3 linked regions of the Homo sapiens genome follow. The protein of the gene in region 1 interacts with the protein of each later gene in a pairwise test. Each region holds a gene or a part of one and is shown on either strand. Other genes may lie near its edges.

The links. The genes of interacting proteins can lie anywhere in the genome.
Region 2: the proteins of JAKMIP2 (region 1) and ZNF263 interact in binary tests that used the Homo sapiens proteins (3 or more experiments, as listed by UniProt).
Region 3: the proteins of JAKMIP2 (region 1) and CLIP4 interact in binary tests that used the Homo sapiens proteins (3 or more experiments, as listed by UniProt).

Annotation. Positions count from the first base shown.
Region 1 is NC_000005.10:147,639,574-147,646,849, reverse strand, and holds part of JAKMIP2 (janus kinase and microtubule-interacting protein 2), read left to right. Parts: intron 1-1,853; coding exon 1,854-2,000; intron 2,001-2,651; coding exon 2,652-2,792; intron 2,793-5,085; coding exon 5,086-5,142; intron 5,143-6,026; coding exon 6,027-6,146; intron 6,147-7,089; coding exon 7,090-7,218; intron 7,219-7,276.
Region 2 is NC_000016.10:3,278,621-3,286,741, forward strand, and holds the start of ZNF263 (zinc finger protein 263), read left to right. Parts: upstream 1-4,870; 5' UTR 4,871-5,198; coding exon 5,199-5,585; intron 5,586-6,438; coding exon 6,439-6,619; intron 6,620-7,060; coding exon 7,061-7,134; intron 7,135-7,402; coding exon 7,403-7,529; intron 7,530-8,121. UniProt on the Homo sapiens protein: Transcription factor that binds to the consensus sequence 5'-TCCTCCC-3' and acts as a transcriptional repressor.
Region 3 is NC_000002.12:29,153,390-29,160,665, forward strand, and holds part of CLIP4 (CAP-Gly domain-containing linker protein 4), read left to right. Parts: intron 1-2,964; coding exon 2,965-3,054; intron 3,055-3,814; coding exon 3,815-3,958; coding exon of another isoform or gene 3,959-4,013; intron 4,014-6,943; coding exon 6,944-7,078; intron 7,079-7,276.

The sequences.
Region 1 (7,276 bases):
ATGAATATAAATTAATATTTGTTATATTTTTTGTGTGTATTGACCCTTTAATCATTATGCTTTTTTTTTCCTCTGGTAATACTTCTTGGCTTAAAGTCGTTGTTATTAGTTGAACTACATCAGATTTTTGTTTTAGTGTTAGTGTGCATATACATGTGTATGTGTATATATATATGTATTTATAACTATATAGACATACATATATACATACATATTTACACATACATATATACACACACAAACACACTTTTTTCCAACCTTTCTGTGTTTTATTTAAGGTGTATCTTAAAAGGAACATTTTGTTGGGTATTGTGGGACTATGGTTATTGATGTATGATGTGATAGAATTATAGATATTTTCTTTATGTATATCTGCATTTTCTGTGAATTGTATTAATAAGTAAATTTAAATATTTAAAACTCACATCATTGACCTTCAGAAGAGACAGATTAAAAAATAAGAATAACTTATTGTCCTTATATGTATGCAATATTTAATATTAATGCTTCAGGCACTAAGGACTAAGGCATTAATGCTTCAGGACTAAGTCAGATTATTTGTAAAAATAAACCCAGTTTTGGCCTTTAATATGAAATGGAGTTATTTCTTTAATACGAAATTGAGATTGAGATGGATTTGCAGAAGTGCTGTTTAAGAATCGTAAGATGAGATTTTACAAATATTCATAATTAGCTAAGTCTTCCACCTCAGCACTTCCCAAAATCTTAGAATCTCAAGAACAGTAGTGCGCACTTTAAAAAGTCTTCTCAAATATTTCGAATACAGCCCTCCTTTTTCCTTGCTCTTCTCCCAATACATACTCACATTCAGAATCATTAGTAAGAAAAGAATAAGCTAATCATGAGAAGCTGAAAATGAAAATCTATAATGTATAGGATGATCATGAAATATACAAAAAGGAGTGTTTTAAAAGTAAAGGGGAGGACTATTGACAATCCCCTCAAGACAATTTTCATAAACTTAGACCAGTGGTTCCCAACTACAGGCGATTTTGGCAATATCTGATGTTTTTGATGGTCGCAATTAGCAGAGTGTTACTGGCATCTAGCCAGCAGAGGCCAAGGATGCCGCTAAACATCCTCCACTGCACAGGACACCTTACATCAAAAAAACATCCGGCTCAAAATGTCACAGACGCCGAGACTGAGAAACCCTGCTTTAGACTAACCAAGCAAATGAGAGTATGCTCACTCTTAATTATGGGTGGATAACAATACAATCATACTTTACTAAGCTTGGGGAGAATTTGATATCCTTACACAAACATCCACAGAGTTTCAAACTTACGTGTGGTTTTTTTCCCCTCGATAAAATTTCTTTTAAAATAACAACTGTAGTGCGAGTCAGGAGATTTCCACAAGGTCTCTGAAAGAATGACCTTTGGACATAACCAGGCTTGGATTCAGCTCCTGGTCGCATTACTTAGTGGCCGTGTGGTCTGGGTGAGCTCCTTTATCTCTGAGCTAATGCAGGTCATTCCAGGTGCAGGGATTGCAGCTGAGCACGGTGGAGTAACAAGTCGGGGAAGCGAAAGAAAGCAAGGAGAGCGCGTCCTCCCGAGCATTTCCAAAACCAGTCTCTGGAGTACTTTCCTTAAGACAATGGATTGATATAAGGCTATGAAGGCTGTGATGAAAAACCGTTAGAGAAAACTGAAAAGAAAGCAAACAGTCTGTTAAATGAAGGATTGAAATGTCAGTGGTCAGTCCTCAGCCACATAGTGAAGCAGAGACAAGGCTGTCTCCAGAGGTGCTTTCACTCCCACCACTTTACTCCCCTGCCCCCACGTCCCCCAAACGCAAGACACAAATCTTCACTTATTTCTTCCCAGTTAAAACGTGTGCGGGAAACCGAAAAGCAATGTAAACCTCTCCTGGAAAGGAACAAGTGCCTCGCCAAGAGAAACGATGAACTGATGGTGTCCTTGCAGCGCATGGAAGAAAAACTAAAAGCCGTTACCAAGGAAAATTCAGAAATGGTGTGTATCACAGACTCTGCAAAACTGCAGCTTCCTTGATTATATTACCTTAATAACCTGACTTATTGCCATTTCTCAGCTTATTTTAAAAATACAGTGCTATTTGGATTTTTCCTTATGTAAGCAAGGAAGCCTTAATGAAGAAAGCAAGAGAAGGTTGCTGGCTCTGAATTTTATGAGGTTTCTATATTTGCAAAACTGTAGGAGTGCTTCCAGGAATTTGCACACTTTCCAAAGCTTGGAAATGGAGAAGGAAAGCTTTGACATAACTTAGCCACAGAAACCATCCATGACTTCACTAACATGCTATTTACAGACCTATACCCCAGGCACACCTTGTCTTCTAAGATCGTGCATGATATTTGGGAAATAGATACCATTACTTGTGTTATATGCGGACAAGTGAAATGATAATGTACTCCTTAATAGACTTTCAATACATCTATAGAGATCTTTGACAATCCCCAATGATAATGACTTATTATGGCAGATAAAATGTGCTTGAGGATTTAGTTGGTGTATGTGTATTCAGGCTGGGCAATTTCCAAATTTAGCTGGAGCCTCATAAACTTTCTACAGATATTTTATGTTAACAACCAAAGTTTGAGGTTTTTAAAGTCTCCACCTGTACTTTCTTCTTTTCCAATCCAGAGAGAAAAAATAACATCCCATCCACCCCTGAAGAAATTAAAATCTCTGAATGACCTCGACCAAGCTAATGAAGAACAAGAAACAGAGTTTCTAAAACTTCAGGTCATTGAGCAACAGAACATTATTGATGAGCTCACAAGGGTACGTGTCAATCAATCTGTAAACCCTAAGTTGTTCCCAAGGACAAGTAGCCAACAAAATATACACTGAAAGCAGTTAATTTTAGTTTAACCCCAGAGGCCCAAGTTCATATGTTAAATATGTAATTTTGTTCTAGAGACTGTATTCCAATATTTTATATTGTTCAACTGCTTTACACCTTTTAAATTATAACCCTTTGTTAACTAATTTGGTAGCACAAATAATAACAGCAAAGCACATTAAAAGAACTTTTAAATGCCTCGTTGTATAAGTTTGTAGGTAGGTTGGGTGTGTCTTGTAACTGCCTTCCAGTAGCAGGATCCCGAGGCTCAGAGATTTAATATGTTGTCTATGCTAACAACATCACATATATACCTTGTTTCCCAGGTCTCAATTCAGTGTCTAGCACATAGTTACAGTTCAACAAATATTTGTTGGATGAACAGCAACAATATAATTACATAACAGAGCTAAAATTTCAGCCCAGATTTTCTGATCATTACTTCAGTACCTACTGAGTGGGTAGAGCAGTTATTACTTCCATCAGAGTTTGGCTGAGGTTTGTGTTGCTAGTAAGGATGCACTAAGACCTCTAGGTGCCTTTGGGTTTTCTTCTTTGCCTCTCCATCTGTGTTCTGTGAATGACATCGTTGGTTGCTCTCACTTCAGGACCAAGTCAAGGCCTAAAGACTTGAATTGCAAGGAGGGAGTTAGGCAATAGTCTCCAGAGTGAGGTGAGAAAAGTGATTCACTGCCACTGAGACAGAGAAAGGTTATAGCTTCTGTTTATAATTACTTATGATTCATCCTTTTTAAAATTTCTATGTTGACTATATGTTACAATGAATACATTAGATTAGGAAGGTAATTTAAATATATAATTGTATTAGGGCTCTCTAGAGGGACAGAAGTAATAGGATAGATGTATATATAATGGGGAGTTTATTAAGGAGTATTGGCACACACGATCGCAAGGTGAGGTCCCACAATAGGTCATCTGCAAGCTGAAGAGCAAGGAAGCCAGTCCAAGTCCCAAAGCTGAAGAACTTGGAGTCTGATGTTCCAGGGCAGGAAGAATCAGGAGAAAGATGTAGGCTGGGAGACTCAACCAGTCTAGTCTCTTCACGTGCTTCTGCCTGTTTTTATTCTGGCTGTGATGGCAGCTGTTTAGATTGTGCTCACCCAGATTGAGGGTGAGTCTACCTTTCCCAGTCCACTGACTCAAACGTTAAACCTCCTTTGGCAACACCCACGTAGACACACCCAGGAACAATACTTTGTATCCTTCAATCCAATCAAATTGACACTCAATATTAACCATCACAATAATGTGTAAATTGTAAAAGTCTCATATATAGAGGCTGCATTTTTACTTATAAAGGTGAAAAAAAAAAAGCCCGAACACCACTGGCTTAAACAAGATTACTCATTACTCCCTGTTTTCCTCATTTCATTTTCACATCCTAATAACTCATACATTTTACAAATTCATGAGCCCAGGAATTTGCCTGGCTTTGAGTATCCTGAGATTAAGCTGTAAATTTTTTATAGAATTTTGGGCTATTTAGGCACACTCATCGGACTTTTCAAAAGACATTCTATCTAGTTTAAATTTTTACAGTAAATACATGGAGTGCTTAGTGAATAAACCCCAAATTCCCATGATATCTCTATTCACAGCAACAATAAATCATGAAATTGATCAATATTTCTAGGCATTCTTTGAGATTCCCAGAAAATTTTTTAAAAACTGAAGACAAAACAGAAACACTAAATGGCTCCAACCCGCTAGCTACTCTGTTCCCTGTCCTATTTTCAGGGACTGCAGGTGAGAACAAGGATGCAAAAATAGGCCAAAGACAGCTTTCTATGCATTTCAAATGACTAAATGAAAAGAATACGGTTTTACTTTATTGTGAAATTGTATTTTTAACACAAATTTAAAGTAATTTTGGATCTAGGAGAACTAAAGTACTGTGCTTTGGGGGAATATAAGTAACTATTTTCATAGCTACTTGATGTTCAAGTATAAAACAGGATTCTGATTAGGAACACAGTACACTTTCTGATCATGAGGCTCCTTGATCCACATAACTCATCAGGAATAGTTGTAGAAGATTCTTGTTTTGAATATATTTAAGTATCAATCCCAAAAGTTGCCAAAATTTAAAAAACAAAGTCTTATTCTATTCCAAATATAATGCCTTATGGGAAAGAACACTCTGTCTTTGCAAAAAACTATAAAGAAACATCTACCAATTCTGGATCTGAAAATCTTTCATCTGTTTTCCAGGACCGAGAAAAGCTCATCCGTAGAAGAAAGCATAGAAGAAGTTCCAAGCCAATTAAGGTAATAAGAAATCAAAGTTATCAGGCATTTGCCACAAACAGCCAGAGAGATGAGGCTTGGCATGGAATCTTCCTACAAAGATGTGATGAATCAGGTGTTCCAGAACTGTTGCAGCAAACCATGGGCATTATTTGCTAGAAGAAAATATTTTCTGTTGACATTTCTTCGAAGTCTAAAAATGATTATGTTGTAAATTTTAACCTGAAAGGGGTTTGCTTTAATATAACTTTCTCTAAATGGAGATGCCCCTAGGTTTGATGTAGAAAGGATTACCTGACAAGTTGGAGAGTCATATTCAAGAAATGCACATGATTTGATGTCTCCCACTTATGACAATTAATACATTTTCATTATTCATTCAGACAATCTTATTGATAGCAATGCTCCCAATCCATCAATATCTGTATAGCCTCTTATAATCCACAAAGTTTTGTTATTCAGTTTGTCTATTTGATTTTTATTTTGGTTTTTACCAAGTATACCATTGGTTTTTAATGTGGACTTGGATGACAAGGCTTAAGATTTGATCATCTCCATCACATAGATACCTGAGTTTTCAAAATCCTTTGGTCATAGTTTAAATACAGGAAAGAGTAAACCACACTAGCTCATCATGATATAAAATGTAATATGAAAGAGGTTTCAGTGTTTCTATGAAAAAAGCTACATATTATGAATTTTTCTTAAGATGTCAGAAGTGAAATAATATGAGAGAAACACTTATTGGAATTATGCTCATGCCTAATGTTTTTATTTCAACAAAGAAGCATAGAGGATCCATGTCTTCTATATTCACTTACACGTATGCCAGTTGACAGTATTTTAACGTTCAACTTTCCCTACTGTTAGCTATGTCAGTAAATAGGTACTTTCCCTCCATTTAGAGGCCTGTTTTGGACCCGTTTATTGGCTATGATGAGGACTCTATGGATTCAGAGACATCATCCATGGCCTCATTTAGAACAGACAGAACACCAGCTACTCCTGATGATGACTTGGATGAAGTAAGCTTTTCTACTTCTCTAGCCTAGGGTGATATTGTCACCAAATCTTTGATTTAAGGGGGAAGAAAAAGGATTTCACTTTTCATCTCCTTTATATAAACAGCACAAAGTGATCTCATAATAGTAAACAATTTTGAGGCTGCACTTTATTATCTCTTGAAAAATAGCTTCACTTATAGCAGGTAAACCTTTTAGAAATTTCTCTCCAGTTCAACTCTCTAATTTGAAGACTTCTTTCAAAATAAAAGTTACTTTCCAATATTCTTTATCTAGGGAAGGTAGGAACCCAAGAGGCCTTAGCAGGCTTTTGGATGTGGTCTGACACTGTTGAGTGAAGTGTGTTCTGTGGACCATCCTCATCAGAATGATCTAGAGGGCTCAGTTACAATGAAAAGTCCTGGACTCTACCATGCAACTCCTGACTCAGGATCTTAGGAGTGAAACACCCCAGTCTGCATTGTTTCCCAAAATTCCCTGCTGATTATGTTATGTCCTGAAGTTTAAGATGTAATGCAATAAAACAGATTTTATGATTTATCTGGGGGAAAAAACAAGTTGCTGGAGATGAACATACTGAAAAGAAATAAGAAAATTCTAGGGTATCATTTCCTCAAATTTAGGTCCAAAATCTGGATATGACTTTTTCTTATTTGGATCCAAAATTGACTACATTCTAAGCTCAAATGATTAACAATGAGAAATGTATCAAATGCTAAATGCTTCTTTTACTAAAATAAATATTTATGTATTTCTGCAGTGTCCATCTTGAAAGTATTACAGTATTTGTGCCCGTATATACACTTCAGAGCTAAAAATAAAATCAAATAGACTGTTAAACAACCTTTTACTTCTTGTAAAAAGTGGGCAAATGTTAATATTTCACATTGAAAACAGGACCTGAACATAACACAATTGTTTTGGGGCTTTTTTTCTTAACCTCAAGAGTTTAGCAGCTGAAGAATCTGAACTAAGATTTCGACAATTAACAAAAGAATATCAGGCCCTCCAAAGAGCATATGCCCTCCTACAGGAGCAGACGGGAGGCATCATCGACGCTGAACGAGAAGCCAAGGTTAGTGTGTATCTGTGAGAGTGCTCTGAATTAGCGTGCAGCAGTCACAGCATAAAAG
Region 2 (8,121 bases), on another chromosome or scaffold:
ACAGTTTACTGGTCTGAAAAAAAAAATAGGTTGGTAAATAGTGATCTAATATGCAAATAGAGGAATATGTCTAAATATTAACATTATCAAACAATATTAGTAAGACAGTTTGGTTAATGTTAGTCCAAAGGAAAATTTAAACTCCAGAACATTTAATCAAAATATAAGTGGCGTAAAATGTCTCATTTTATCTTTTCATGAGGAAAGGTAATATATTCCATATTAATAAAAATAAAATGCATTTCAAATGAAATGCCATTTAAATTTGCTATTTTGTTTATGATTGGATTTCAAAGCTAGGAGTAGGATCAAAGAGCATGTGGTACAGGTAAAAGAAAACCCTAAATCCAGCGCTTTGGGAGGCCGAGGCGGGTGGATCACCTGAGGTCAGGAGTTCAAGACCAGCCTGGCCGACATGGCAAAACTCCATCTCTACTAAAAATACAAAAATTAGCCAGGCATGGTGGCGTGTGCCTGTAATCCCAGCTACCCGGGAGGCTGAGGCAGGAGAATCGCTGGAACTTGGGCAGAGGCTGCAGTGAGCCTTGACTGCGCCACTGTACTCCAGCCTGGGCGACAGAGCAAGGCTCTGTCTCAGAAAAAAAGAAAACCCTAAGTCATAGATCAAAGGAATGCTGTAGTCAAGTAAACGAGGGGAGAGACCAAAGCTGGGGGGAGTGGCAAGTAGCAAAGGCTTAGAGTGGCAGAAGCTCCCGGAGGCTGAATGTACCCTAAGATGAAAGACAGGAAAAGCATCGATTTAAAATGACGGCTATGTTGCCCAGGCTGGTCTCAAAACTCCTGGGCTGAAGCAATCCTCCTGCCTCAGCATCCCTAATAGGTGGGGCTACAGTTGCATGTCACCACAACCAGTTAATTTTTAAAATTTTTTTTCTGTAGAGACGAGGTCTTGCCATGTTGCCCAGGCTGGTCTCAAAATCCTGGCCTCAAGTGATTCTTCCACCTCAGCCTCCCAAAGTGCTGGGATTACAGGCGTGAGCCACAGTACGTGGCCTAGTCTTGAAAGTCTTAACACTGTAGATTTCACCAAATGTCACTTTGAAAACCAGGCACAGATAACTGGCCCCTTGAGTACAAAGGAATCTGTAAGAGCTAGTTAGGGAATGAAAGAAGTCCCAGAGACAGAGTCTAGTACCCATGAGACCTAAAACCAGGAGTGGTAAGGGTTCTTTGTCGAAGATTCAAATTTATTTTTCTCTGCAACAGTCACGAAGTCACCTGCAGCTGAGGATGAGAAAACACAGTTAAGTCCTCACTTAACATCACTAATACGGTAAGTCCTCACTTAACATCATTGATAGGGTCTTGGAAACTGGGACTTAAAGGGAAAAGACATATAATGAAACTAATTTATTTTTGTCATCAACCTTATAACAAAATGTGCTTTCACTTAAGATAACAGTTTCCAACCTATCTAGGACATTGAGGACTTACAGTGTTAAGAAAGTAGAATCTGTACTGGTTTCAAAGGCGCTTACTTCTCTTCACTACTTACTTTTCACCAAAGCCCTAAAGTAGCAGTTCTTAGTCTTTTTGGCGGTTTTTAGAACTTGATGAAAGCTATGAACCCACTTACTAGAACATACAGATACACACACACACACACACACACACACACACACACACACACACACACATCCAATTTTGCATACAGTATCAAAAGGTTTACAAAAATCTCCAAACCCATCCATGGATCCTCTGGAACTGCATTGGCCAGTATGGTAATACTTGGCAAGACTAACTCCATTTTAAGTGCCCATTGGCTACCATCACAGAAAGTTCTATTGGATAGCACTGCTCCAGACATGGAGGCAGCTTAAGAACCCTGGCCCTGGCCGGGTGCAGTGGCTCACGCCTGTAATCCCAGCACTTTGGGAGGCCAAGGTGGGCGGATCACCTGAGGTCAGGAGTTCAAGAGCAGCCTGGCCAACATGGCAAAACTCTGTCTCTACTAAAAATACAAAAATTAGCCGGGTGTGGTGCGTGGTGCCTATAATCCCAGCTACTCGGGAGGCTGAGGCATGAGAATCGCTTGAACCTGGGAGGCGGAGGTTGCAGTGAGCTGAGATCCCACCACTGCACTCCAGCCGGGGCGATAGAGCGAGACTCCATCTCGAAAAAACAACAAAAAACCCCTACAAATCTGCTGGCCTGTTAACACCACTCCTAGTCTAATACCAGCTAGTCTGTTTTCCACATACTGGCAGATCACAAAGAATTGGAGGAGGACTACTACCACCACTGATTTTGAATAACCCTGAAAGTTCATCTTTTTTTAAAAAATTAAATTATTATTGCTATTTTTTGAGATGCAGTCTTGCTGTCGCCCAGGCTGGAGTGCAGTGGCACAATCTCAGTTCACTGCAACCTCTGCCTCCCAGGTTCAAGTGATTCTCCTGCCTTAGCCTCCCCAGTAGCTGGAAATACGGGCGTGCGCCACCATGCCCGGCTAATTTTTTTGTATTTTTAGTAGAGACGAGGTTTCACCGTGTTAACCAGGAGATGATCTCGATCTCCTGACCTCGTGATCCGCCTATCTTGGCTTCCCAAAGTGCTGGGATTACAGGCGTGAGCCAGCGCACCTAGCCTAAATTCATCTACTTTTAAGTACCTATAAATAGCATAAAATCAAAAGGACCTTAGATAGAAAATGATTAATCCCTCATTCTCCCTATCTCAAGGTATGTGTAGTTCTGCAAACATTCCCATGCCACAGATTCTGCAATAATAATCTGAGTGGCTTTTCTTTTTTGAGATAAGGCACACATTCAGGAACTTGCTGTGCATGCGTAACAGCTACTATTTATCGGATTCATACTATGTGCCAGGTACTGTTCTAAGCATCCTGTGTAGCTCCGCTCATTTCATCCTAACCCAGTGATATGAGGTGAGGTGCGTATAGTAGTCCCTCAAAACAAATGAGGAAACTGAAGTTTGGGGTTTAGTGAGATTACATAAGTTGCCTGAGATTACATAGTAAATGTCAGAGAAAAGTGGTTTTGAGGCTAGAGTCTTCTGCAATTGGTTATGAGTCTAGAATCTATGTCTCTTGAAATAGGAATGTCCAATGATCGTGCCATTGCACTTCAGCCTGGGCGACAGAGCAAGACCCTATCTCAAAAACAAAAGAACAGGAATGCCTAAAACCACCAGAATGGTCCTAGGGAGCAAACAAGGCTTTCCAAACTGGACCTTGAGTGCTATGGGGTCGCTGGCTCTGCATCTGCCACGACAGCCTGTGGATCTGTCATCTTCCCTGGAATAAAATTTTTAAAAAAGGCCAGGCGTGGTGGCTCACGCCTGTAATCCCAGCACAGTGGGAGGCTAAGGCGGGCAGATCACTCGAGGTGAGGAATTTGAGACCAGCCTGGCCAACATGGTGAAACCCCGTCTCTACTAAAAATACAAAAATTAGCCGGGCGTGGTGGTGGGCGCTTGTAATCCCGGCTACTCAGGAGGCTGAGGCAGGAGAATCGCTTGAACCCGGGAGGGGGAGGTTTCAGTGAGCCGAGACTGCGCCATTGCACTCCAGCCTGGGCAACAAGAGCGAAACTCCGTCTCGGAAAAAAAAAAAAAAGAAAAAAACTAAAATATCAGTACTCTTTTCACTTAGTCATCACAAACCCCTTTAATCCCATATTACCCTCTACTATCATGGTAGCCTCACCTTTGACGACAGACTAGCTGTGTGACCCAAGTAAATGACTTCAGTGCCACCACCTGTAGGAAGGGGCTGCTAATAGCATCTGCTTCATACTAACGTGTTTTCAGGATCGATCTGCATATAAACGCTCAATACACGGTAACTGATTGTCACATTCTATCCCAGGACGCTTCCATTTGCGGATCTCATGGCCCGGAGGACCTGGGCCGCCTCACAACTGGGCAGCCCCGCTCACCGACACAAAGCCCACAACCGCGCCCAATAGGGAATCGGCCCTGCGGCCCTCCTGCCACTCGCCCCCAACTATCACAGTCCACGGCGGAGCTGGAGGCAGATCCCGCCCTTGCAGGGCTGGGTAAGAGACTGAAACTTGGAGAATGAACTGCAGGCGCTGCACATCTCGGGCAGATTTAAAATTCGGTCTAAAATCGGAAGCAGGTGCCGCGAACCCAGACCCGAGCGCTCCTCTGGGACGTCCAGCCGCAGAAGCGAGCCCAAAGCCCAGCAGGGTTCTCCGCGGGACTCGGGGTTTCAGAACCGCCGGGCTCTTGGGCGCTCGCCCAGGGCGCACGCGCAGTCGCGAGGCCGCGCCGCGGACTGCATCTCCCAGCAGGCCCCGCGCAGCAGGCCACGCGGCGCCACTGACTGGGCGGGCGGCTAGCTCCCTGGCCTCCCCGACATGCCGAGGAGCCCCTGGCTTCCGGAGCCGACGAGGCCGCAGGGGCCAATGGGACCATCTTCAGCCAGCCCAGAGTAGCCGAAGCGGGTGGGGCCTGGCTTGGGAAAGGATTCATCCGGGGAAGCTGATTAACAATTCAGATTTCCGGGTCTCACCCCGACACTGACGCACTGGAGAGCGCGTGGCCCTGGGATCTGCGTTTTCCCAAGCGCTCCGGAGTAATTCTAACCCAGGTTGCCCGCCAGTCACAACGACCTCAGGCTTGTTTTCTTCGCTTGGATCCAGCTGCCCTGCCCCCAGTCACTCCCAGAATTTCAGGGCGCGCCCCGTGGCCCCGCCTCTCGTCTCCAATTGGTCCCTCGCTCATCCAGTCCCCGTAGGCCAATCTTCCCTTCTCATTGGTAGGCGGTGAGTGTGTGGAGAAACCTGACCTAATGGGCGCTGGAGTTCGCAAAACGTGACCCGGAAATTGGTCACGAGCAGGCGCCGTGGGCTTGTGGACGCCTAACTTGCGCGCTGAGATTTCCGGCGTGGGAGCAGAGGTCTGAGTCTTGCGTGGGTCCTCTATATAGGGTGAGAAGCGTGGCGCTCGGTTCCTGCCTCGGGGAAGTCCTGGCGCAGATGGGCCACGGGGCCGGCGTGGCGGCGCCTGGGACCGACTGAGGCCTAGGCGCCGGAGCCGGCCGCGCCTGGGCTGGAGCGGGGCTCCTCGGCCTGGACTGGGAGCCCCCGGCCCCGGGCTCCTGCTGGCGCCGTCCAACCTTACATGGGTTCAGGGCGCCTTCGTAGGCGGGCACGGCTGGTTTCGGGCTAAGGCGCTCTGGAGACCTGACGATGGCGTCGGGCCCGGGCTCCCAGGAACGGGAAGGGCTCCTGATAGTGAAGCTGGAGGAGGACTGCGCCTGGAGCCAGGAGCTGCCCCCACCTGACCCAGGACCGAGCCCCGAGGCCTCCCACTTGCGCTTCAGACGGTTCCGCTTCCAAGAGGCAGCTGGTCCCCGGGAAGCCCTCAGCCGGCTCCAAGAGCTTTGCCATGGGTGGCTTCGGCCTGAGATGCGCACGAAGGAGCAGATCTTGGAGCTGCTGGTGTTAGAGCAGTTCCTGACCATCCTGCCCCAGGAGATCCAGAGCAGGGTGCAGGAGCTGCATCCGGAGAGCGGCGAAGAAGCGGTGACCCTTGTGGAGGATATGCAGAGAGAGCTTGGGAGACTGAGACAACAGGTGAGAGAGAGAGAGAGCTGTTTTATCTGTGGTTTGTTTAGCCCTGAGCACTGGGACATTGCGCCCCCGGTCGAATTCAAGTAAATTGCCCTGAGTAGACCTTACGTGGGGAAGAGGACTTGTGATTTAACCTGGAACACTCATCCTCCAGATTTTCCCCCAAATGAACGAAAGCAGTGAAGAGTGCCCTGTTTCCACGCGGAGGCGGTGTCCCTGCAACAGTTAGTGTTAGCCATGGAGTTAGATCGCCAGCGTTCAAATCCTCAATCTGCTAGTACTAGCTTTGTTACTTTGGCAAGTTACTTGATCTCTTTCGGCCTGTTTTCCTATTCGTAAAATGAGGATATTAACATACTTTCTAGGGCTTAGAGGGAGAGCAGCATGTAAAGTTGTGAACACTACTAGCTTATGAGTGCTTAGTACTTGTTACCTGTTGTTATGTTAGGGTCCACGGTCTGGTCTTCTCTGCAAAGCTGGGCCTCCGTTAATTGTGAACTTTGAAAGATAATTTGGCACCGAGGCCCTGAGGTCATTGGTCCCCAGGGCTACCCCAATTTAGCCTATCCTATAGTGAGGAATAGAAGCACCTAGAAAAGGTGGGGAGAGCAAAAGGGAGTGAGGTGTATCTTAAGAGCTGTGTGGGGAAGGTGTGCTCTGGGAGTGGGCCCTTTCCCTAACCCCTCCCCCTGCACATGGGATCAAAAAAGCCTTTAGTGTAAACCATTTTTCTGTTACCTGGGCCCAAAGGGATCGCCTGAGGTTCTCTGTTGAAGGTTTGCTCTCAGTATCCTATACTAATTTCCCTTCCTCTTGGGCCCTGTTGTGATGATGAGTGATGTGGGTTGGTTCCCAGGTCACAAACCATGGGCGGGGAACAGAAGTGCTTTTGGAGGAGCCTTTGCCTCTGGAAACAGCACGAGAGTCACCGAGCTTCAAGCTGGAGCCAATGGAGACTGAGCGAAGCCCTGGCCCCAGGCTGCAGGAGCTGCTAGGCCCCAGCCCCCAAAGGGACCCCCAGGCTGTAAAGGAGAGGGGTGAGGCACAGTTATCTGGGCAGGTGGGAGGGAGGAGGGGCTTGGGGGTTGCCCCCGACACTAGCTGGATGTAGCAATGATGCGAAGGAGAAGGAATTTCTGAAGATCAGGTTCTCACCTGTGGAATGAAAGACCTGCAGTTGGTGGTGTGGGTTCTCCTGGGGCTGGGGGAAGGGAAGGGAGTCTCAGTAGAGCCCTTTTTTATGCAGAACAGAGGCGATTTAGAACCACTTGAATGACGCAGGGTTTGGAGTGCTACTCTTGGTACTCCTTCCCTCTCACCCTGTCATTTTGGATATCAGCTGATTAGGCCTCTGTGCAGTTTAGCGTCATTCCCAAAAGCAGAGGCTGGGTGTTGGGGAATGGATACTGTGTTTTAATAATCCTTGGGTTGCCAAGAGTTAGGAATGCCATTCTCATTATAATTTCTGTCACCTTCAGCATTATCTGCTCCCTGGCTTTCTCTTTTTCCTCCTGAAGGGAACATGGAAGACAAGGAGATGACTGGGCCCCAGGTGATGTGGAAGTTTCCATTGTCTCCCCCCAGCACCCTTCCTCCCCTGAGTGTTGGGGGTGGGGGTTCTCCATGTGGAAGGTCCTTTGTCCCTTACCACAGCGTCTCCCCCACTGCTTTGTCTATTTCACACCTCACTTGGAGGCCTGATACCCTTCTTCCCCCCTGACATGTGCTTGGCATCCCTGGATTTTGCCCCTTTAACCCATGACTCTGCTTGAATTGTTCTTGGTGCATCAGGGGCTAAAGGAGATCTTGTGCTGTTTCAGTTGCCTGAGAGCTTAGAGGACGTGGCAATGTACATCTCCCAGGAGGAGTGGGGGCATCAGGATCCTAGTAAGAGGGCCCTCTCCAGGGACACGGTGCAGGAGAGTTATGAGAATGTGGACTCACTGGGTAAGGACTTCTTTTCCAGGGATGATGACTGCGCCATTTCTGACCAGGGTCCTGCCCGTTATTCATTCACCTCCTGGACACAGACTCTGAGTTTTGCCAAGAAGCCTCCACAGGAGACTTCCCTTTGTCTAAAGTCCCCTGTACGAGAGTCATGTATCTGCCAAGTGGTACAGTTGGCACAGGCAGCCCGGGACTGGAGTCCCAGCTGCCAGAGCCTAAGGCGAGTCTGAGCCATGTGCACTTCCTAGGGCAGAGCAAACCCAATGCGGTGACAACCTGCCAGCATCACACACATGCAGTATTCCAGGATGCTGGGGGGCTCTAAATGGTTGATTCCTTGCAATTTTCAGATGCTTATTCTTATGAGCTCGCCAGTGTTTCCTGTGTTCCGTTAGTGTTTCTAGGCTCGTCCCCAAAGACAAAAATTTCAGGGGTAGTAGGATCAACATTCCAGCCTATCATCTCTCACAGCCCATAAAAATTCAGAAAGTGGGGAGGGTCTTGTGGAAATTTGGAAACAATGTATAGCTCCAAAGTAGGCCATATCATAAATTAAGATTTACCTATGTCTTGTACTGTACTCAGAGTTTTA
Region 3 (7,276 bases), on another chromosome or scaffold:
CAGTAATTTGACTTCTGCCTTTTGAGGTCCTCACCATTTTTTTCGACTTCTTATTCATATCCTGTCTCTAGTTCACTTTAATCTCCTCATTCCCTAACTTTGTATGTGCTTTTTTTATCCATACCACCCAATTGTTATTTGTTATCTTGGGTTTTGTCCTCGGATTGCTTTATTTGTGCAAGTGTCCTATTCTCTCGGCAAAATTTTAAACTTTAACTGAACCATGAGAGTAAATTGTAGTGTTGTTTTCACTGTAGCAATGCACAAAACAGGTGCTCAATAAACACTTGGTAATTTGTAAATAGTTGAGGTAGAAAGCTCTCTACCAGGATGAAAGGAATTTGTCCAAGAATTAGGCTGGCCTTTATATTCTGTTCCACTGGGCTATTTGAATATCCCTGTGTCAATACTGCACTCCATAATAAGTAGTTTTTAAAAATAAATCTTGATGTCCAGTAGTGGAAAACCTCCTATCTCATTCTTGATCATTGTCTTGCTGATTTGGGGCTTTTATAAATCACCCTTCCGTATACATTTTACAATAAACTGTTAAGTTTCCTTTTAAAAATTCTGTTGAGGTTTTATCTGATGTTTTAGTTGAAGCTTAAATCAATGGGAAAGAACTGACATCTTTACAATAGTCAGTTTTTAAATTATGAGTTTAGAATATCTTTCTGTTTAATTAGGCCCTTTGAAAATATCCCAACAAAATTGTGTAATTTTTTTCTACAGGTATTTTATATCTGCCTTGTTAGGTCTATTGGTAGGTACTCCATACTTTTTGGTGGCATTATAAGTAGCATCCTTTTAACCTGAAGCCCAGAAGTATACGGTAAATATAGACAGAAAGCTCCAAGAGAAGCCCCCTCTATTTCTGGTCTGAGGAGCAGAAAAGGGGTCTCCTATTAGATAGAATGTGGATGAAATCACCTGTTATCTTTATTGCTTGCCTTTTCTTTCCCTTGTTTCCCATCCAGTCCCCAGGCAGTCCTACGTGGTATGGATGGGCAGCTGTGAATGGGCAGGCACCCGAAACCCCAAGGAAGGGAAATCCATGTCTCTGACCAGAGAAACTTTGGTCCAAGGACATAGATGGAATCCACATTGGTTTTTCTTCTGTTTTCTCACTGCTTGGCCCCAGAGGCACAATCAGTCTCAGGATTGTATGACAGAGCAAGGAAACGAAAGCTTAGACATTCTACTCAGAATACCGGGAAGGGATGCCCAGGAGCAGGAAGTGTCAGGGAAATCATAGAGAGGAGGGGACTCAAGAAAGAGGCCTCACAATTTTGGCTGTGAACTCCTAGGTCTTCTTGCAAGTGGTGTATGCATGGATCTGACCAAAGCCTTTGGTCTCCTTGGTAGACCACTGCTTGGGTCCCAGCCTGACTACTGGGCTGCACAGCACATGAGACAAATTCAAACAGCATTGCAGAGGCTGCGGAAGCGGAACCCACATCAGAACCACAGTGCACAGAGGGTGGTCAGGAACTTCTGCCCAGAGGCTACATGGGTTGACTGCCTGCTAAAATGAAACAGTCAACATCCTCCATAGGATTTAAACAAGACCTATTCCAGTGTCCATACATAATATTCAAAAGACACAAGATACAATTTAAAATTACCCAAAATATGAAAAAGTCAACACCTCTTACAAGGAAAAAGACAGTCCAAGCATAGCAGCTTTGAGATGACATGGACATTGCAATGAACACATAAAGATTTTAAGTAATGTAACCACACTCCAAGAATTAAGGGTGTAGCTGGGCATTGTGGTGCACACCTGTAGTCCCAGCTACTCTAGAGGCTGAGGCAGGAGGATCACTTGAGTCCAGGAGTTTAGGCTGCAATGGGCTATGATTGTGCCACTGCACTACAGCCTGGCTAACAGAACAAGACCCTGTTTCTGAACAAAAAAAAGAATCAAACGTGAACACTCTTGAAACAAATGAAAAGAAAGTTTCAGCCAAGAAATAGAAGATATGAAAAACAACCAAATGATACACCCAAGTGTATACACACACACACACACACACAAGAGTACAAGCAGAACTGTGGAAATCTCAGACTGGTGAATTGTATCACTGCCAACATCCTGGTTGACATATTATACTTATTATACCACAGTTTTGCAAAACATTACCTTTGGAGGAAACCTAGTCAAAATGTACAGGGAATCTCCTTGTATTATTTTTTATAAAAACTTTAAAGAAAATATTTTATAACTGAAAAATGTAATGAAAAATAAAAATTTACTCTTCAGGTTGCCTTCACAAAATGTCTCCTCTCCACCCTCTTCATTCAGTTTCTGCTGTTGGAGTTCAGGCTCTCATGCTTGGACTATGCTAATAATGTCTGACTGGTCCCTGCTTCCAGCCTCTCCCGCTGTGGTTTCGTTGCAGCCCTGCTGTCAGGAGAGTGTTATTTAACTAGACTCTGTTCATGCCAGTATTCCTTTTCAAAGCCCAGCAGAGGCTCCTTCTTTACAGAAGAGTTCTCAGTCCTTAGCTGGGCACTGGCATCCCTGTCTGAAGTGTTACTGTGACCTGTCTGTCTAGTCTTGCTTTTCCTACATTTCATAAGTACTCTGTTCCAGCCAAGCTACTCACTATTTTCTGTGTCTTAAGATTTTCTTTTTGTCCATCAAGAATGCCTGCCCTCAGTTCTTCCTGACCATACGGCTAGTATTCTCAGGAAGAAATCTGACCTGTCCCTTAGGACCCATCTCAGAATGTGATCATCTTGATGAGACATTAATTGATCTTTGTAGCCACTGTTACTGTCTCCTTCTCGTATGCTAGTGCTTATACCAAAACATGTCCTCATATGTCTGTGCAGTTGTTATCCAATATGTTTTCAGAAGTGAGTGAGATTTCGATAATGAGGGATGCATGTACTTTAAAAAATACATTTTATGTTTAATGTTAAAATTCTTGCTTAAAGTGTTTTATTTTTGTGTCCAAGGATTAATGACATCAAAAAAAGATAGTGCTTCTGAGTCAACACTTTCATTGCCTCCTGGTGAAGAACTTAAAACTGTGACAGAGAAAGATGGTAATATACCTTGTAACCTCTGTTTCTCAAAATTTAACTTTTGATGGAACTTTAAAATATGGTAGGAAAACAGTTTATATGGAGGTTAAGTTTTAAAGTTGGCAAGGGAAAAATTATAGTAAAAATTAAACTTGGAAATCACTGAAGCAGCTCATAGCAAGCTATATACATTATATTTTTTGTGTGTAAAGTACTGCATTATGATTCTTTTACTTAAATTAGATAACTACTGGACTAGATTTAAGAAAATAAACGGAAATTCCATAATATAGAGCACTCTACACAAATGTTTCATTTGCCTTTAGCTATCAAATCATTAGATGAATTGAGCATGAGTATTCCTTCTTGCCTTCTGGTTTAACTCAAAATGTCTTAATATTAAACTTTTGTTGCCTTAAAACATATTAATATCATGTTTAATTTTTGTATAAAAGGGGACTCTACTATGTCATCTAAGGTGAGAGGTGACTGATGGTCATTAGATTAGGTAGTCAGTTCACATCAATTGATGTGGTGATACCTCTTACATAAGATTGTGATCTTACCGTGGGAATCCTTAAAATATTATTGCTTGTGTTATAAAATCTTTTATATATAAACTACAATTGCTATTTGGATGAAATTAGGCATTTAATTTGACACTAGATAATCCATAATTGAGGAAGTTAAATGAAGAATTTCAGAAAGATTTGCCTTGACAAGCTGCTTCTTGGTCCACATCTTATTTTCCACCGTTTGACACGTTCTTTATCTGTTACAGTTGCCCTGCTTGGATCTGTCAGCAGCTGCTCCTCTACATCTTCTTTGGAACACAGACAGAGCTACCCCAAGAAACAGAATGCAATCAGCAGTAACAAGAAGACAATGAGCAAAAGCCCTTCCCTTTCATCCAGAGCCAGTGCTGGTATCTATGGCTTTTTCAACCAGGCTTTCTTGGTGTTTTTTATCTTGGTTTGTTTGTAAGTAGATTTGCTCTTTTTAAATGTGTAGAAGGAACCCTTTACTTCAATCAGATTGAACTACTTTTACTCTTCCCCACCTCCCCCGAACCTTAAGCCTTAAGGTCTCTTTGTTTTGCCGTCTCAGATATAAGACTTTGCATTTATTTTCATGTAATTCATTCTTAGTGGTTTTACCTCATCTGAATTTAGCTTCTTCACAGGCCTTTGTGTCATCTTCATATTTAAAAAGCATGCTTTCTGTGTTTTTATTCAAGTGATTGTTTTAAAACTATGTTTGCTTAAAACCTAGGAGAAGGTCAGAGGGTCCTCTCCCAGGATGGCAATACCAGCCAGTTTTGATATGGCTTTTTAACTAGCCGTGAACCTGCATAATCTCACTCAGTCCACATTTCTTCAGTTATTTGTAAAGATACGTAAAACACTTTATCAGACTTCTTTTCGAAATGACATAGATTTTGTCTGTTGCAGTTCACTTATTTGCCTATATAGCGAACTTGTCCAGAAAGGCAAAAGCCATCTTGGCAAAATACGTTCTTCATGAACCTCTTTATTACCAGATTCTTTTTTTAGTGCTTCTATTAATAGTTCTTGTAGTGAACCAACATTTTATTATGGAAAATATTCATGACAGATTTCTAAAAAAATACTTGATGGGAAGAAACCTCCAAAGCTCTCAACAATAACATTGACATAATAAGCCTAAAAACTGGGACCCTAAAAGTAGAGAACCTGAAAGTTTTCCCTGAAATTGTTTGCCTGGAATATTTATTCTCTGAGTGGCTTCCTCTCTCCATACCCCAACCAGTTTTTCTTTATGTTGTGAGGAGCAGAGGTGAGAAGGTACAGTGCTGACACAGCCATCCTGTTTGTCCAAATTTCATTCACATTTTAAGGCCCCCTTCATTTGGTATTTGCACTTTTGACATTTACTTGATTTTAAAATTTATACATGGGTATGGAATTACTTTTTTTTTTTTAACCTTCTAAACAAAGTAGTCTAGCGTGCCTATATATTTACCATTTAAAAAAATAAATTTGAGGGTTATGTCGACTTAAACAACAGTGAAGATGAAGAGAGTTATCAGAGTGAGAAAGAGGACCTTTCAAAGAGGGAGATGGGCCGAGAATGGGAGATATGGGAAAGTCTGTGTTGGGAACCCCAGAGACATGTACTTAAAACATGTTTCTCTAGTGAGTAGATATTCCACTTGTTTTATAGATTTGCATTTGAGGGAGATGTAGACTGCAGAGAACGAACAATAATGGAAAGTTAGGTTAAAAAATTAGAGAAAGAAGAGTGGAAATAAAGGATTCGGGGAATGGGAAAGGTAGGGACCTCGGCCTCATCATATCCCATTGTTATTTACTTTTTATTTTTTATTAAAGACAAGGTCTTGCTGTGTCGCCCAGGCTGGGGTGCAGTGTTGCAATCATAGTGACTGCAGCCTTCAACTCCTGGACCCAGGTGATCTTCCTACCTTGGCCTCCTAAAGTGCTGGGATTTACAGGCATGAGCCATCATGCCCAGCCTGTGTCCCACTGTTGAACTTGCCATCTTTGGTTCATTGTCTACAGGCGACAAGGGGACGGGCCTGAGGATTTCTGATCACAGAGTCTTGGTTTTAATCTAGGTGTACCACTTACTGGCTGTTAACAGTGTGTCTTAGTTAATTCCTGAGTTTGTATCTTATTTTTCAGCATAATTTTTAGGAAAAGCACTTTGTAAACTATGAAGTGCTATAGAATATTGGTTATGATGAGGGCCTCGGACTTACTGGTATAATCCAGACCTTCTCCATGGGTTTATTTTCCTTGTTTAGTTGCTGTGTTTTTGATTTCTTCTTTTTTCACAGTATGACTTACCCTCCATCCCATGCCCTCCTCCAGAGTTCTCTACTCCCTCTCAGATGGCAGCTCTTCAAATCTTTGTTTATGTACTGATGGGACAAGGCTCAAGCACCCACTTCTTCTCTTTCAGCTGTTATATTTGAACAGCTTTCTAGATCATATTTCTCTAGGACTTCTATGTTTAATAGTGGGCATTTCAAGGTTTAGTTTTGAATCAGGTTGACAGGGCAGTGGTTTTGTTCTTAATAACAAAATCACTTTAGGATAATTAGAACCGTATAGCAATTTAACCTTCAAATCACACTACTTTTGGCTGGTCACAGTGGCTCATGCCTGTTATCTTAGCACTTTGGGAAGCTGAGGTGGGAGGATCACTCAAGCCCAGGAGTTTGAGACCAGCTTGGTCAACACAGCAAGACCCTGTTTCTTTAAAAAAAAAAAAAAAAAAAAAAAAGTCAAATCACATGACTTTTTATATAATTTACACTGAGTCTAAGTGAACTATTAATACTATAATTCTAGTATTTTAGTAGAATAGAAATTGTCAAACTATGGCCCATGGGCCAAATCTGACCTACCACTTGTTTTTGTAAATAAAGTTCTTTGGAATGCAGCCATGCACATTTGAAAAAAATATATTGTCTATATCTACTTTCATGCTGCAACAGCAGAGTTCAATAGTTGTGGCAGAGGTGGTATGGCTAGCAAATCCTAACATATTTACTGTCCAGCAATTTGCAGAAACAGTTTGCTGTGACCCCTGTTCTAGTAGAGATGCTGCAGGCAATCTTGGAAGAGTTGGTAGTTTACCAGGGATCAGGTTTTGTGAATTTCCCATGGCAGTAATTTTCCCAGGAAACTCTTCACATTTCCTTTGAGCAGCTTGACCTCACATGTGAGAAACACAACTGTAGATGACTTATGTGATGAAAGGCATCAGATATCAAAATCACCAACTAACTAGACTAGTTAGAATACCTAGTGTGATTTTTTGGCTAATGTGCTTTTTGAGTTTTTCTCCCTTTGTTTTTTCTCCTCTTTTCCTGCCCTGCCCCTGTATCCCTCCCTGACTTAAACAGGTTTGAATTCCTCAGCAACATCTACAGCAAATAATAGCCGTTGCGAGGGGGAACTCCGCCTCGGAGAGAGAGTGTTAGTGGTAGGACAGAGACTGGGCACCATTAGGTTCTTTGGGACAACAAACTTCGCTCCAGGTAACTCATCTGCATATTTTCTTAACTTGAATTCTTTAGAGTACAAAAGGTTTAAAATTTTACATGTAAATAGAATTTAATTGTAGAGAAATCTTGATGAACAGTTTTTGTGGATGGCAGCTATAGTACAGAAAATGTGAAATGATGATGAAAACTCAGACTGTTTACTCACGTGGATGGTTACCCATACATTTTTTT